Linked DNA regions of Homo sapiens: region 1 is linked to region 2. Evidence: fine-mapped expression QTL. A gene starts in region 2. The other region holds a variant in brackets. All regions are shown on one strand. Distances are from middle to middle.

The links. PIP is the estimated chance that this variant, and not a neighbour inherited with it, causes the effect.
Region 1: its variant is fine-mapped to the expression of CCDC54-AS1 in aorta (GTEx, PIP above 0.99).

The regions. Positions count from the first base shown.
Region 1 is chr3:107,333,426-107,342,247 of GRCh38, forward strand. No RefSeq gene overlaps it. Among named protein-coding and RNA genes, the nearest start is that of CCDC54, 40 kb to the right of the region's middle. The variant C/T (reference allele first, on the strand shown) is at 3,697.
Region 2 is chr3:107,378,214-107,387,035 of GRCh38, forward strand. It overlaps CCDC54-AS1 (CCDC54 antisense RNA 1), which reads right to left and starts at 3,946. Exons shown (of 2, transcript NR_126332.1): 1 at 3,710-3,946; 2 at 2,263-2,495. It overlaps CCDC54 (coiled-coil domain containing 54), which reads left to right. Exons shown (of 1, transcript NM_032600.3): 1 at 1-422. The coding sequence ends at 361.

The DNA.
Region 1 (8,822 bases), 45 kb before region 2:
GCCACCATGCCTGGCCAATATTTTTAACATCTATCAGGAAACAAACTAGCAAAATAAACTTTATAACACTAACAGGTGATTCACTCATTAATAAAGTTTTACAATTGTCAACACTAGTGCTCTTATTTGTTATAAATCTCTGCTATTATGTCTAGGAATGTTTTTAAACCTCTTAACCATAATTTAAAAATAGTGGCTTACACCTGTAATCACAGCACTTTGGGAGGCCGAGGCAAGCAGATAACATGAGGTCAGGAGTTTGAGACCAGCCTGGCCAATGTGGTGAAACTCCATCTCTACAAAAAATTTAAAAAATGGGGGGGAAGCAGCCAAGATGGCCAAACAGGAACAGCTCCGGTCTACAGCTCCCAGCGTGAGTGACACAGAAGACAAGTGATTTCTGCATTTCCATCTGAGGTACCGGGTTCATCTCACTAGGGAGTGCCAGACAGTGGACGCAGGACAGTGGGTGCAGCACACTGTGTGCGAGCTGAAGCAGGACGAGGCATTGCCTCACTCAGGAAGCGCAAGGGGTCAGGGAGTTCCCTTTCCTAGTCAAAGAAAGGGGTGACAGATGGCACCTGGAAAATCGGGTCACTCCCACCCTAATACTGCGCTTTTCCGACGGGCTTAAAAAACAGTGGACCAGGAGATTATATCCCGCACCTGGCTCGGAGGGTCCTACGCCCACGGAGTCTTGTTCATTGCTAGCACAGCAGTCTGAGATGAAACTGCAAGGCGGCAATGAGGCTGGGGGAGGGGCGCCCGCCATTGCCCAGGCTTGCTTAGGTAAACAAAGCAGCTGAGAAGCTCGAACTGGGTGGAGCCCACCACAGCTCAAGGAGGCCTGCCTGCCTCTGTAGGCTCCACCTCCGGGGGCAGGGCACAGACAAACAAAAAGACAGCAGTAACCTCTGCAGACTTAAATGTCCCTGTCTGACAGCTTTGAAGAGAGAAGTGGTTCTCCCAGCACACAACTGGAGATCTGAGAAGGGGCAGACTGCCTCCTCAAGTGGGTCCCTGACCCCTGACCCCTGAGCAGCCTAACTGGGAGGCACCCCCCACTAGGGGCAGACTGACACCTCACACGGCCGGGTACTCCTCTGAGACAAAACTTCCAGAGGACCTATCAGACAGCAGCATTCGCGGTTCATGAAAATCCGCTGTTGTGCAGCCAACGCTGCTGTTACCCAGGCAAACAGCGTCTGGAGTGGACTTCTAGCAAACTCCAACAGACCTGCAGCTGAGGGTCCTGTCTGTTAGAAGGAAAACTAACCAACAGAAAGGACATCCACACCAAAAACCCATCTGTACATCACCATCATCAAAGACCAAAAGTAGATAAAACCACAAAGATGGGGAAAAAACAGAGCAGAAAAACTGGAAACTCTAAAAAGCAGAGTGCCTCTCCTCCTCCAAAGGAAGGCAGTTCCTCACCAGCAACGGAACAAAGCTGGATGGAGAAGGACTTTGTCAAGTTGAGAAAAGACGGCTTCAGACGATCAAACTACTCCGAGCTACAGGAGGAAATTCAAACCAAAGGCAATGAAGTTAAAAACTTTGAAAAAAATTGAGAAGAATGTATAACTAGAATAACCAATACAGAGAAGTGCTTAAAGGAGCTGATGGAGCTGAAAGCTCAGGAGCCGATGCGATCGACTGGAAGAAAGGGTATCAGTGATGGAAGATGAAATGAATGAAATGAAGTGAGAAGGGAAGTTTAGAGAAAAAAGAATAAAAAGAAATGAACAAAGCCTCCAAGAAATATAGGACTATGTGAAAAGACCAAATCTATGTCTGATTGGTGTACCTGAAAGTGACGGGGAGAATGGAACCAAGTGGGAAAACACTCTGCAGGATATTATCCAGGAGAACTTCCCCAATCTAGCAAGGCAGGCCAACATTCAGATTCAGGAAATACAGAGAACGCCACAAAGATACACCTCGAGAAGAGCAACTCCAAGACACATAATTGTCAGATTCACCAAAGTTGAAATGAAGGAAAAAATGTTAAGGGCAGCCAGAGAGAAAGGTCGGGTTACCCACAAAGGGAAGCCCCTCAGACTAACAGCGGATCTCTCGGCAGAAACTCTACAAGCCAGAAGAGAGTGGGGGCCAATATTCAACATTCTTAAAGAAAAGAATTTTCAACCCAGAATTTCATATCTGGCCAAACTAAGCTTCATAAGTGAAGGAGAAATAAAATACTTTACAGACAAGCAAATGCTGAGAGATTTTGTCACCACCAGGCCTGCCCTAAAAGACCTCCTGAAGGAAGCGCTAAACATGGAAAGGAACAACCAGTACCAGCCGCTGCAAAATCATGCCAAATTGTAAAGACCATAGCAGCTAAGAAGAAACTGCATCAACTAATGAGCAAAATAACCAGCTAATATCAAAATGACAGGATCAAATTCACACATAACAATATTAACTGTAAACGTAAATGGACTAAATGCTCCCATTAAAAGACACAGACTGGCAAATTGGATGGAGTCAAGACCCATCAGTGTGCTGTATTCAGGAAACCCATCTCACGTGCAGAGACACACATAGGCTCAAAATAAAAGGATGGAGGAAGATCTACCAAGCAAGTGGAAAACAAAAAAAGGCAGGGGTTGCAATCCTAGTCTCTGATAAAACAGACTTTAAACCAGCAAAGATCAAAAGAGACAAAGAAGGCCATTACATAATGGTAAAGGGATCAATTCAACAAGAAGAGCTAACTATCCTAAATATATATGCACCAAATACAGGAGCACCTAGCTTCATAAAGCAAGTCCCGAGTGACCTACAAAGAGACTTAGACTCCCACACAATAATAATGGGAGACTTTAACACCCCACTGTCAACATTAGACAGATCAACAGGACAGAAAGTTAACAAGAATACCCAGGAATTGAACTCAGCTCTGCACCACGCAGACCTAATACACATCTACAGAACTCTCCACCCCAAATCAACAGAATACACATTTTTTTCAGCACCGCACCACACCTATTCCAAAATTGACCACATAGTTGGAAGTAAAGCTCTCCTCAGCAAATGTAAAAGAACAGAAAGTATAACAAACTGTCTCTCAGACCACAGTGCAATCAAAGTAGAACTCAGGATTAAGAAACTCACTCAAAACCGCTCAACTACATGGAAACTGAACAACCTGCTCCTGAATGACTACTGGGTACATAACGAAATGAAGGCAGAAATAAACATGTTCTTTGAAACCAACGAGAACAAAGACACAACATACCAGAATCTCTGGGACACATTCAAAGCAGTGTGTAGAGGGAAATTTATAGTACTAAATGCCTACAAGAGAAAGCAGGAAAGATCCAAAATTGACACCCTAACATCACAATTAAAAGAACTAGAAAAGCAAGAGCAAACACATTCAAAAGCTAGCAGAAGGCAAGAAATAACTAAAATCAGAGCAGAACTGAAGGAAATAGAGACACAAAAAACCCTTCAAAAAATTAATGAATCCAGGAGCTGGTTTTCTGAAAGGATCAACAAAATTGATAGACTGCTAGCAAGACTAATAAAGAAGAAAAGAGAGAAGAAACAAATAGACACAATAAAAAATGATAAAGGGGATATCACCACCGATCCCACAGAAATACAAACTACCATCAGAGAATACTACAAACACCTCTACACAAATAAACTAGAAAATCTAGAAGAAATGGATAAATTCCT[C/T]GACACATACACCCTCCCAAGACTAAACCAGGAAGAAGTTGAATCTCTGAATACACCAATAACAGGCTCTGAAATTGTGGCAATAATCAATAGCTTACCAACCAAAAAAAGTCCAGGACCAGATGGATTCACAGCCGAATTCTACCAGAGGTACAAGGAGGAATTGGTACCATTCCTTCTGAAACTATTCCCATCAATAGAAAAAGACGGAATCCTCCCTAACTCATTTTATGAAGCCAGCATCATCCTGATACCAAAGCTGGGCAGAGACACAACCAAAAAAGAGAATTTTAGACCAATATCCTTGATGAACATTGATGCAAAAATCCTCAATAAAATACTGGCAAACCGAATCCAGCAGCACATCAAAAAGTTTATCCACCATGATCAAGTGGGCTTCATCCCTGGGATGCAAGGCTGGTTCAATATACGCAAATCAATAAATGTAATCCAGCATATAAACAGAACCAAAGACAAAAACCACATGATTATCTCAATAGATGCAGAAAAGGCCTTTGACAAAATTCAACAACCCTTCATGCTAAAAACTGTCAATAAATTAGGTATTGATGGGACGTATCTCAAAATAATAAGAGCTATTTATGACAAACCCCCAGCCAATATCATACTGAATGGGCAAAAACTGGAAGCATTCCCTTTGAAAACTGGCACAAGACAGGGATGCCCTCTCTCACCATTCCTATTCAACATAGTGTTGGAAATTCTGGCCAGGGCAATTAGGCAGGAGAAGGAAATAAAGGGTATTCAATTAGGAAAAGAGGAAGTCAAATTGTCCCTGTTTGCAGATGACATGATTGTATATCTAGAAAACCCCATTGTCTCAGCCCAAAATCTCCTTAAGCTGATAAGCAACTTCAGCAAAGTCTCAGGATACAAAATCAACGTACAAAAATCACAAGCATTCTTATACACCAATAACAGACAAACAGAGAGCCAAATCATGAGTGAACTCCCATTCACAATTGCTTCAAAGAGAATAAAATACCTAGGAATCCAACTTACAAGGGACATGAAGGACCTCTTCAGGGAGAACTACAAACCACTGCTTAATGAAATAAAAGAGGATACAAACAAATGGAAGAACATTCCATGCTCATGGGTACGAAGAATCAATATCGTGGAAATGGCCATACTGCCCAAGGTAGTTTATAGATTCAATGCCATCCCCATCAAGCTACAAAAGACTTTCTTCACAGAATTGGAAAAAACTACTTTAAAGTTCATATGCAACCAAAAAAGAGCCCGCATCGCCAAGTCAATCCTAAGCCAAAAGAACAAAGCTGGAGGCATCATGCTACCTGACTTCAAAGTATACTACAAGGCTACAGTAACCAAAACAGCATGGTACTGGTACCAAAACAGAGATATAGATCAATGGAACAGAACAGAGCCCTCAGAAATAACGCCACATATCTACAACTATCTGATCTTTGACAAACCTGAGAAAAATAAGCAATGAGGAAAGGACTCCCTATTTAATAAATGGTGCTGGGAAAACTGGCTAGACATATGTAGAAAGCTAAAACTGGATCCCTTCCTTATACCTTATACAAAAATTAATTCAAGATGGATTAAAGACTTAAACGTTAGACCTAAAACCATAAAAACCCTAGAAGAAAACCTAGGCAATACCATTCAGGACATAGGCATGGGCAAGGACTTCATGTCTAAAACACCAAAAGCAATGGCAACAAAAGCCAAAATTGACAAATGGGATCTAATTAAACTAAAGAGCTTCTGCACAGCAAAAGAAACTACCATCAGAGTGAACAGGCAACCTACAAAATGGGAGAAAATTTTCACAACCTACTCATCTGACAAAGGTCTAATATCCAGAATCTACAATGAACTCAAACAAATTTACAAGAAAAAAACAAACAACCCCATCAAAAAGTGGGCGAAGGACATGAACAGACACTTCTCAAAAGAAGACATTAATGCAGCCAAAAAACACATGAAAAAATGCTCACCATCACTGGCCATCAGAGAAATGCAAATCAAAACCACAATGAGATACCATCTCACATCAGTTAGAATGGCAATCATTAAAAAGTCAGGAAACAACAGGTGCTGGAGAGGATGTGGAGAAATAGGAACACTTTTACACTGTTGGTGGGACTGTAAACTAGTTCAACCATTGTGGAAGTCAGTGTGGTGATTCCTCAGGGATCTAGAACTAGAAACACCATTTGACCCAGCCATCCCATTACTGGGTATATACCCAAAGGACTATAAATCATGCTGCTGTAAAGACACATGCACATGTATGTTTATTGCGGCATTATTCACAATAGCAGAGACTTGGAACCAACCCAAATGTCCAACAATGATAGAGTGGATTAAGAAAATGTGGCACATATACACCATGGAATACTATGCAGCCATAAAAAAGGATGAGTTCATGTCCTTTGTAGGGACATGGATGAAACTGGAAATCATCATTCTCAGTATACTATCGCAAGAACAAAAAACCAAACACCGCATATTCTCACTCATAAGTGGGAATTGAACAATGAGAACACATGGACACAGGAAGGGGAACATGACACTCTGGGGACTGTTGTGGGTTGGGGGGAGGGGGGAGGGATAGCATTAGGAGATATACCTAATGCTAAATGATGAGTTAATGGGTGTAGCACACCAGCATGGCACATGTATACATATGTAACTAACCTGCACATTGTGCACATGTACCCTAAAACTTAAAGTATAATAATAATAAAATAAAATAAAATAAAAAATTAAAAAAATTAAAAATTAAAATAAAAAATAAAAAAAAATTTTAAAAATGAAAAACATTAGCCAGGCATGGTGGCAGGCGTCTGTAATCCCAACTACTCGGGAGGCTGAGGTAGGAGAATTGCAGAGGATGTAGTGAGCCGAGATTGTGCCAGTGCACTCCAGCCTAGAGGACAGAGCAAGACTCTGTCTCAAAAAAAAAAAGAAGGATTATTTTTTTTTAAAAAAGAGTCCTTCAAAACCACAATGTGATACCAGTCAGAATGGCTACTATTAAAAATTTAAAATAACAGATACTGGCAAGGTTATATCATTTATAAATGGTATTACTTGCTGTAATGCCAATATATGTAATGCCATGGACTGAGTCTGGTTACTTATGCTGACCTATGAATGGATCGAAGTGTCAATAATTAAAATGTCTGCCTTGGATGTAAGGAAACTGTGAATATACAAATGACCACTATAGTTTCTCATAATATTGAATTTTCTGTCTTATCATCATGTATTTCTTAGTGATACATCAATTCAGCACTTCTAGAAGTCAAATGTACATATACATTATCATGAACTATAATCCAGGTTGGACTCTTTTTTTAATTTAACTTTTAAGTTCAAGGATACACATGCAAGTTTGTTATATAGGTAAACTTGTGTCATGGGGGGTTTGTTGTACAGATTATTTTGCAACCCAGGTATTAAGACATTAGTTATTTTTCCTGATCCTTTCTCTCCTCCCACCCTTCACCCTCCACCCTCCTATAGGCCCCAGTGTTGTTGTTCTCCTCTATGTGTCGATGTATTCTCGTCATTTAGCTCCTACCTATAAGTGAGAATATGTGGTGTTTGGTTTTCTGTTCCTGTGTTAGTTTGCTAAGGATAATGGCCTCCAGCTCCAACCACATTCCTGCAAAGGACACAATTGTTCTTTTTTATGGCTGCATGGTATTCTATGGTGTATATATACCACATTTTCTTTATCCAGTCTACCACCGATCAGCACTTAAGTTGATTCTATGTCTTTGCTATTGTGAATAGTGCTGCAGTGAACATACACGTGCATGTGTCTTTACAACAGAACGATTTATATTTCTTTGGGTGTATGCCTTCTAATGGGATTGCTAGGTGAAATGGTATTTCTGTTTTTGGGCCTTTGATGAATTGTCACACTGTCTTTTACAATGGTTGAATTAATTTACAGTCCCACCAACAGTGTATAAGCATTCCTTTTTCTCTGCAACCTTGTCAGCATTTGTTATTTTTTGACTTTTTAATAATAGCCATTCTGATTGGTGTGAGGTGGTATCGCATTGTGGTTTTGAAGAACCCTTTTTTTTAAAAAAAAAAAAAATTGATTCTATTATGATTAAGAGGTTTAAAAAATTTCTGGACATAATAGAAGAGATTTATAAAAATATGAGCACTAGTGTTGATCATAGCAAAACTTAATTAATGACTGAATCACCTGTTTGTGTTATAAAATGCAAGCTTCAACAAAAATAACATTACACAAAAATGACAAAAATAGTTTGAAATTTGCAATTTACTTGCCAGCTGAGAGTAAACCTATTTCATTGTAGGTTGTGTCTCAAAATACTGGTGTCATTTGACACATACAAAGAACATTATGAGAAACTTATTAAAATTTCTGAGGCAAAGTAGAAGAACATTCAGGCATCCTAGGAACTAACATGTGTGTAATACGGATAAGAATACAAAAGCTGGAGAAACCTTCCCTATGTTGTTGTAAAATAATTGATGAAACACATATAATCCTACAGGCAAATAAATGCAAAAGCAGTGACTGGGGACAAAGCAAGCAAAATGATTGATAAAGTGCCTCTGTCAAATAAGAGTCTATTTTGGAATTGCAGCTATGAACAGAAAGTAAAGGACCAATTATTATTCAGAGAATGACAAAGTCAATAAAATTCTCTGAAAACTGATGAATCTACCAGTATTGTACAGTAAGAAAATCTTTTGTAATTGTCTGACATGATCTGAGTAAAGTGATGTATAAAAAATTTTTCTCAGCCAAATTGTACATTTGAAGTAATATTTTGTAAATGTATTGATTATTTCAGGTAATCAATAGCAATGATAAGAAGTGATATTGAGGCAGGAAATAAGCTCTGCATACAGGGAACCTAAAGAATTCCTAGAACTAAATTAAACTGAAAAACCCCAACCTTCTAAACCCAAGTGTTAATAAAGAGCTTTGTAACTTCACTTCAGCTACGGTAGCAAACATCCTCTTCATTTGCATAGGACGTACACCAAGTAAATAACTTTGTAACTTCACTTCATCCTCTTCATTTACATAGGGCATACACCAAGTAACCAATGGGAAATCTCTAAAGGGTATT
Region 2 (8,822 bases):
GAAAAAAACAATTTCTCCCCAAATGAAAACTCTGAAGAAACGTAACCATCAAAATGCATCAAGGAGCTTTGAAAAAGCAAAGCCAAATATTTACATTTACCCAGACTTCAGTACATGGATCAAGCTAACTTTTGTTCATGGAGGAAAATGGACATTTTTCCTCAGTGCTACCAAGTTAGAAGAATTCATCCAGTGGCTTCTTTCTAGGCCAACCATTCTTCCTGAGGAACCCCAGGTCATAACCCAGAGATACTGTCCATTCACTGGGCCCATTTTGAGCTTGACCACAATCTGTCTCTCCATCTTCAACAATATTTACGGCTTTATTTGTTCCTTAAAAGAAGAAGTAACTCGACTATAGAGTTATGTTCTGCTTTGCTTGGCACAAAATAAATGTAACCTGGAGGCTCCAAGTATTCACACATTGGTGTGGTGGCTGTGAATTCTTCGGTAGTTTGCTCACTCTGGGCCCACTATCTGCAGAGTTTCTCTATGTCTACAGTAAGTTAAGGCACATGATCTAATTGAACTGTTGTAATTCGTTTTCTCTCAATGTTCTTGTTTTCTCAAAGGCAATTCATGAGGACTCATCCTGGGTCCATTTTCATAGATAATTGGAAACAAAGAATGAAGGAGTCCAGGGCAATGTGTAGTATGTTTGGTGGCCTCCATGTCAGTTTTCTATACACTTTGTCCTCGTGGCCTTTGTGGATACGGTTTGTGATACCAGAAACATACACTACTGACAAGACTTCATTTTATTTGTTATTTATTTTTGAAATGGAGTCTCACTCTGTCACCCAGCTGGAGTGTAGTGGTGCAATCTCGGGTCACTGCAACCTCCACCTCCCGGGTTCAAGTGATTCTCCTACCTCGGCCTCCTGAGTAGCTGGAATTACAGGCGCACGCTACCACACCCAGCTAATTTTTGTATTTTTAGTAGAGACAGAGTTTCACCATGTTGACCAGGCTGGTCTCAAACACCTGGCCTCAAGCGAGCCACCCACCTCGACCTGCCAAAGAGCTGGGATTACAGGCATGAACCACCACGCCCGGTCAGACTTTAGGTAGTATAGAGTGAAAAGGATACCCATTGTCAAGGCTACTAAAGTTAGCAGTATAAAAATGAAAGGGATTGAAAGGCTAAGTTATTGCAAGGAACATATTCAAAATATTGGCTTTTTCTTTCAACTTCAGCTTCTTTTCTATGAAACAATTAGATAAGAGGAGAAAGACAATATGATACTGGGTAATTTTTACATTTTCATGAAAGGAGAAAAATACCATGTCCTATAGGTTTGATGCAGGGGAAAAGGGAAGATCTAAGAAGGGGTTTGTGAACTAAGTTAAATCTTACCACTATAATACCATAAACTCTTATATGATAGGTTTTTCTTTGTTTGTTTGTTTAAAGCATATAGCCAAGAAGAGCTTCATTTTTAGATATAACAGGTGGTTGTCATTGTAATTTCTGAATATCATGCAGAATAACTGAAAAACAATGTTTCCTTCACCACTTAACTCAGTGAATGAACGCTACCTTCCTTTGTGGTCATATATTAAACCACAAATATTCCTGGCAAATGTACTACACTTAATTATTTGCAGTCAATACTTTGAAAGGGGGGTTTTGGTAGCTAGCTGAGAACAAATGAAAGAGGACAAAGGACCTAAAGGTGGGCACAGCAAAAATTAAGACACAGCTTCGTCTGACGCCAATCTGGGAGTAATTATATAACACATTATTTTTTCATTGACAAATATATTCTATTTGATCCTTCTTTACAAATTTATAGATATGTACATAATAACTTTTAGAATATGTCAAAATGCAGGGAATCAACCTAAATGCCCATCAATTACAGATTAGATAAAGAAAATATGGTACATATACACCATGGAATACTATAGACAGCCACAAAAATAGATGAGATCATGTCTTTTCCAGGAATGTGGCTGGAGCTGAAGGCCATTATCCTTAGCAAACTAATGCAGGAACAGAAAACCAACTACCACATGTTCTCACAAGTGGAAGCTAAAAGATGGGAGCTCATGGACACAAAGAAGGGAACAACTGATACTGGTGCCTACTTGAAAGTGAAGGTTGGGAGGAGGGAGAGAAGCAGAAAAAAATAACTATTGAGTATTAGGCTTAGTACCTGGGTACTAACGACTTGAGTTTACCTATAAAACAAACCTGCGCATGTACCCCAAAACTAAAATAAAAGTTAAAAAATAAAATATGTCAATATGCAACATACCTAATAAAAGCAAAGGTATTTATTAAATGAGTTTGTTTAAAAATGAGATAACTGTGCTTACAATGTATTGTTCTGTTAAAGGCACTAGCAATCTCTATGTATTTACTTACCACCAGAGATGTCCGTAAGGAACAGCCAGAACTCTACTTCAGTACCTTAGGTGTGATGCTCACATTAGGACAATATCTAGGGAAGGCAGGCCATGACACAGGCAAATGACATCACAAATAACTTCTGGAAGAGAAAAAAGTGACCCAGCTGGTATAAGCCTGGGTCGTCTGAGCCTCTGTATATCAGCACTGACTTTCATTTTTCCCCCTCACATGTCCCTTACACAGCCCTTAATGTTTCTAGAGAGGCACGCAGTTTACAGGCACACGCTTGAGGATCAAAAGACCAAGGTTCTCAACCTAAGTCCTAAATTTTACTCTTACAAATTATATTATTTAATTTCAATGAGGTTTTTCTGTCAGCTGTAAAAATATAATCATTATATGAACTTAGTAAATATTTTTTCAGTGTTCACTAATAATAAGGGATCATGGAGGATACAAGAAAAGGTAGACATTCCATGTCCTGTAAATATAGAACATTAAATGGCATAAATAAAAAATGTACACAAAGAACTCTGAGACATGATAAATGGGGATGGGCAGCAAATAGCAATACTGCAAGTATTGCTGGTGTCAGAGAAGAAACAAGCTTGATGAGCCTTGTGCTAAGGAAGTAAAGTGAGGAGGAGGTGGAGAGGACAATGCAGCTGACAGAGGGAAAAACAGGAGCAGAGGGCGGGGGGATAGTAAGGAACGTGGGATGTGAAAGCCACCGGGCATTATACAACATAAAGTACAGACAGGCTATTATTTCAACCCTTTTATGGATCTAATTTTTCTCTTCAGAGATTCCCACCATGCTCATTTCAACCTGTTTTCTTTACCTACATAAGAATGTTAGAGGGGGAGAAAGTGACTCTACGTGATTTTCGCAAGGTCTCGCACTTTCCCTAGAGAGGATTCTGTTTGTCCTGTTAATGAATTGAGTTCCCTGTGAGCAAAGGGAGGATTTTACTTCTGAGTCAATTATTTATTGTCACCTAGACAAGATCTCACATGACTTGTTAAAATTATAAATCATCTTATAACTCAGCATGTGAGCAAATAACTTTTCCCCAGTCCTGGTTTGCAAGTTCACCTGCCTCTCACCAGCCCACCTCCATCCCTCCTGGCTTGGAGAAGTGGCGTTTCTCTAACCCACATTCCTCCACCAGTGCCTTGCAGAGTCTTCATCAATTACTCCCCCTTTCCCCTCCATCTTAATCACCACCTCTCAGTTCTTTGTACTCCGCTTACAAAAATACTCACCTGGTTCCCTTGTCCTTGTGTTCCCCTCGTCTCCTGCCAATTTCCCATCATCTTTTTTAATGAGAGGCCCACCCTCCCTGTCCTCACCTTCCCTCTCCTCTTCTCTCCATGGTTCATGGGAGCATGTCTTCCAGAATGGTGCTTTCTCATCTAGTTTTCTTCCCATCACTCTGGCAGAGTCTTCTCAGTTTTCTTAGATGATTCCTCTGCCACTAATCATTCTGTTAAAATATGGATACTTCATTTTCGTGATCCCAAATCAAAGAATTCCTAATCTAGCCTCTCCTGGGACGTCCTGAGTTTTGGTTCCAAATTACTATTTATCTTCTCCACTTGTGTGTCTACAAAAAAATGTATATAAATATAATTAGACGAATGTCTATAATGTATATCAGTCAAACATGAAAGTCATTGTGCATTCACCAAAACATCTCAAATCATTGTTTTTGCTATTAAACACATCTATTGGGGAGGAAACACTCGGTGGTAAAAAGAGCAAAGACATTCAAAGAAGAACAGATTTTAGAATGACTATTTACTAAACATTTATATTATGTATCAGGCACTATGCTAGTTGGGTGTACAATCATGACCCTCATAACTATGTGATTTTGGCAGTCCTTAAAACTTGAATTCAGTTTTCTCAACTCCGAACTGAGAACAATTTATGTCATGAGACTCTTGTGTTAATTAAATGAAATCATGTGTATAATCTGCCAAGAATAATGCCTGATTTCGTAGGTGCTTAGCATATGGTGGTCATTTCCTTCCCTCCATAGGCTAAATGTCAATGGAAGGCATGAAGATGAACAGGACATGGGCCCTGCCTCAAGCAGCTCACATTCAGGATTCTGCCTCCTTTCATCAGCCATAAAGGACTCCAGACAAATAGGGAACAAAGTGACAGGCTAAATACAAATGCTTCAAACAAAATCTTGACTCCCTCATCCAAAGACAGTGTGATAAGAATAAGACGGGGTGTGAAGCTCTCCTCCTGGTCTGGGCACTCAACCAATATTCCATCATCTACAACAGTCGTTTGCCAACCTTTAATTGCACGCTGTATAAATAAGCAACAAAGAAAAGGATCTGGAGGGAAGGGAGGCTGAGTTAGGATAAATAATTTAGTTCAGTGTGTAATACTTGCTTGCGTAGACACAGACACTAACAGCATTCTGTTCATTCAAAAACAATATTCACCAACATTTATTGAAATTTGACTCTATACCAGGAAATAGCTGAGCTAGGTGTGAACAAACAGAGATGCAAAGACATCAGTCCTGTCCTGAAAGAACATACTTTCAAATGGTGTTATTTCCAGTTGCCAATTATTTTGGTCTGTTGCTTAGATTTGGATTGGAAAACCACACTCTTCATTTAAAACTTAATTTAGCTTTTTTGTGGGACACAAATCAAGTCCCATTTAGAAAAAGACATTGCTTTCCTAAAAGTAATGTTTCAAGGTTAATTCATCAAGACAGAAAAATATAGTTTTTTCTAAATGCTTCTACACACCTTCAAAATGTAGACTGTCACTAACATATCAGTGGATTATGCTCTGAAACTTTATTTGTAAATCCTTTAAAACTCAGAATGCGTACTACAAAGAAATAGTATTAGAGTTGGATTTTTGACCAACCTGTAAAAGCTGACTGAACTACAATGTAGCTGAGATAATGGCATTAATAAAACTCTAAAGCCAAGTTTTCGTATATTCCCATGCTAAAGTGTATTCAGGAAAATAACTGCAATAGTGGTAATCCTGACAGCTGGACCAGTGCCCCCACGCTCCTTATTCTCTCTTCTATCTGATAGTGGAGTGAAAATTTCATAGATTGACGGCCCTAGTGGAGGACACCATGGAGAACAGGGAACAAAGAACAGCAACTAAGTGGGGGCCAAGACAGGTGCTCCAGGGATGGGAAGCCAAGGTGGAAATTCTTGGGTGAGGAAAGAGACAAAGGCTCCATGTGGCTGCTGAGAATCTAGTCCAGGGAATAAGGACTGAAGTGGGGCCAACATCATTTTTTACGGTGATGAGGGACTGAAGGCTGCATACAAGGGAGATAATTGAAGCATGTAAAGCATAATTTTTGGCACATAGTCAGGCTCAATAAATGGTGATAATGATACTGGAGATGATGGAATAGAGGCAAAAACTGTGGGTTTTGCTTCTTCATTTGTTTTTTGGAATACAACCTATTTGGAGGCTAATTTTATTTGTCAGGAACATGAAACTCCAATGTCAGTGGCAGATGGAGTTACTGGAGCAGGGCGATGGTTGTGCAGATGGGACATGTAGGTAAAGGAACGTTGCACTAGTGGGGCTCTTGGGACCAAGATAGGATATGTGAGCTTGTCCTCTCATCTTTCTCCTTTCCCATGCCATTCTTTTCACCTAAAGCTTGAGATGCAAGGATGTGGGGTTTGGGGAGACACATCCTAGACAGAGGCAGAGGTGGGGTGGGGGAAGAACAAGAAGAAGAAAAACGCTTCAATAGGATTAAGAAACAACTGATGTTCTAGTGCAGCCCACTCCTCCCATGCAGAGCAAAGGTACTACACCATGCGTTCCGAAAATGCTAAAAAAGGCAAAAGAAGGCAGTGCTTCCTTAGGTAATTTAATGATATGATCATCCTTTTTCTACCCTTAGTTACATGTTAGCCCTAAGCAATCTGCACAAGCTTCCAGGAATGACTCTCAACAGGACTCTTCCAATCTTTGTTTTTGTCAAAGATTCCACCAATTTTTTTCCCACCTATTTTTAGATCCTACCTTTCTCTCCCACTCTCATCTGCTGTCATAGGAAAAGAATGCATGAAAATGTGGCCAGGTGATCATCTGATTCTGAAGATTTATTCCTAACGTCAGTTGTTTCAGAAGGGGTGTTCTCATCGGCCAATCTCCTGATGAAAGGTGTGACATGTCTTTCAGATTATCAGAAAATCTAAATTTGGATAGTGCTGTCATTTATAGTGACACTTAGTCAACTTACATTTACCAAATATAAAGATAATAATTGCTTGATGTACAGGCTGTAATTCGATCACAGCCATCAGTGACATGACTATTTGTTGTTATAGCAATATAAATGAAATTATGCCTATGGCAGCCTAATTAGAAAAGCACCATCACGACCCAGCTGGCATTTTCAATATGTTATCTAAGAGGTATGATAAGAAGACAAATCAGAGCTGACTTAATGAAGTTTCTGATCAGAGGCTGCTCTGAAGACAATGAGCTATTGAAGGAGACAAAGAGGAACTCATGACTTGCAAATTTATGCAGGCTGTTACAGAACAACAAAACACAACAGAGTTTGCAAGATTCGATCTTGTTGAGAGTGGTAGCAATAGAAATTTTCTTCCTTCTCAACAGCAGGATCCCAATTCATAAAAATTTAACTATGAAAATAAGCTTAAAGATTACTTAGTTCAGTGATATTCAAGTGGGGGTACCCCCAAGGGTCTTTTAAAAATCTCCCAGCAGACATTTGCAAAGTAATCCCTCCCAATACCATGATACACCTATGGGTTGGGGGACATGACGTTGTCTGTACCCCATTTAAGAATCATGACAATAGGACCAGCATAATGTAGGGACTAAGAAGAAGCACCTAGATATTGGATAGGCCAGAATTCATGAGGGCTGTTACTCACTAGATGTGTGACCTTGCTGAATTTCTTAAATCCTCTGAGTTGATTTTCTTATCTCTGAATTAGAGATAATAGAATATAAAGTAAAATTATGTGCTTCAGAAAAACAAATGAGGAAAAACACTTAGCTCATCATCTGGCACATAGTAGGTACTCAATTAATGTTCCATATAACTCTACCACTACTACTACTATTACTACTACTACTGAACAGGCTGGGCAGCTGCTGTCCAGTATGTTGAGGCAGAAAAAAGACTGAGGTCAGAAAACTGGTCCAACCTACTGAGGAGGAACCTGAGATCCAGAGGCAGAAGTGACTTGCCTAAAGTTACCCAGCTTATAGGAGTGTGAACCAGATTCCAGGGCTACAGATGGTGGGTGTTGTGATTTTTAGAACATACTGAATCCTTGGATTCTGACAACTTAAGTAATAATCAGTGAAAATAACCAGGGAAATGCAGTGGCCTAGCAGTCAAAGACAAATTTAGCTGTGCTTCTCTCCCTCTGTGCAGTCTCCCTGATGTTTCATAAAGTATCAAAGTGCATTGATTGAGGATAAGAAATCTGCTATTACTGCAATTCAACCAAACCCCTTTCCCCAGATCATACAGTGCATGTTCCATTACCTTTGAGACTTTGACTTTTCTCACCCCATAATTTGTCAGGCTGGTCTTCTATTATTGATCATTTGATCAGGGATGAGGTGTGAATATTATATGGCAATGTATGTATGTACACACTTATGTAGATTTAGCTATATGCATACATATATGTATATGTGGTATCAAATGTGTGTGTATTATACACACACATCCCAGAGATTTATAATCTTTGATCAATTTTTTTAACCTATTGTCAGTGCTATTGTTCTAGTTACTATAGCTACAGATGAAAAAAAACAATAGTGATAATAAGCACCCACACACACATACTTGTAATAGAAGACTCAGATGGTCCCTGTAAATGTTAATGTACTTTTAGAAAGTTGAAGAGCTGTGAATTATATAGTTTATAAGAGTCTTAAAGGACAAGGATAACTTACTGTGAAGCCTGTCATTCAAGGGAAGAGCAGAGTTTGACAGGAAACATGTATTAATACACTTAATGTAAAACCTAAAACCTAGAGAAGCACTCTAAGCCTGTCTTCTCTTCCTTCTTGCCATCTTCTTTAAAAGAAACAGGATTATTTCTCTTTTCCTATCTCTTTTCCTGGGTTTTTGATAAAGTGTTACTATTTCCACCAGTGGACTTCTCCCTCTTTCTCTCTCTGTCTCTGTTTCTCCCTTCTTCCTCCTTCCACCTCAGTTTTTCTCAGGATGGTGCAGCAGCCCATGGGTTCACACATATAGTCACTTGCCAGCCAAGGTCACTTTCCCCCACTCAGTTTCAGTGTTTACCTTTCCTATTCTTCCTGATTCTACTTCCTGTTATCCCTGCTTCCTGCTCCAACTTCCTCTCGTGGTTTCTTACAGCTACATCCATTTCCCAAATCCCCCTCCCTAGGTCCTGATTTCTGTGTCCAACTCAGGCCGGCAATCATGCT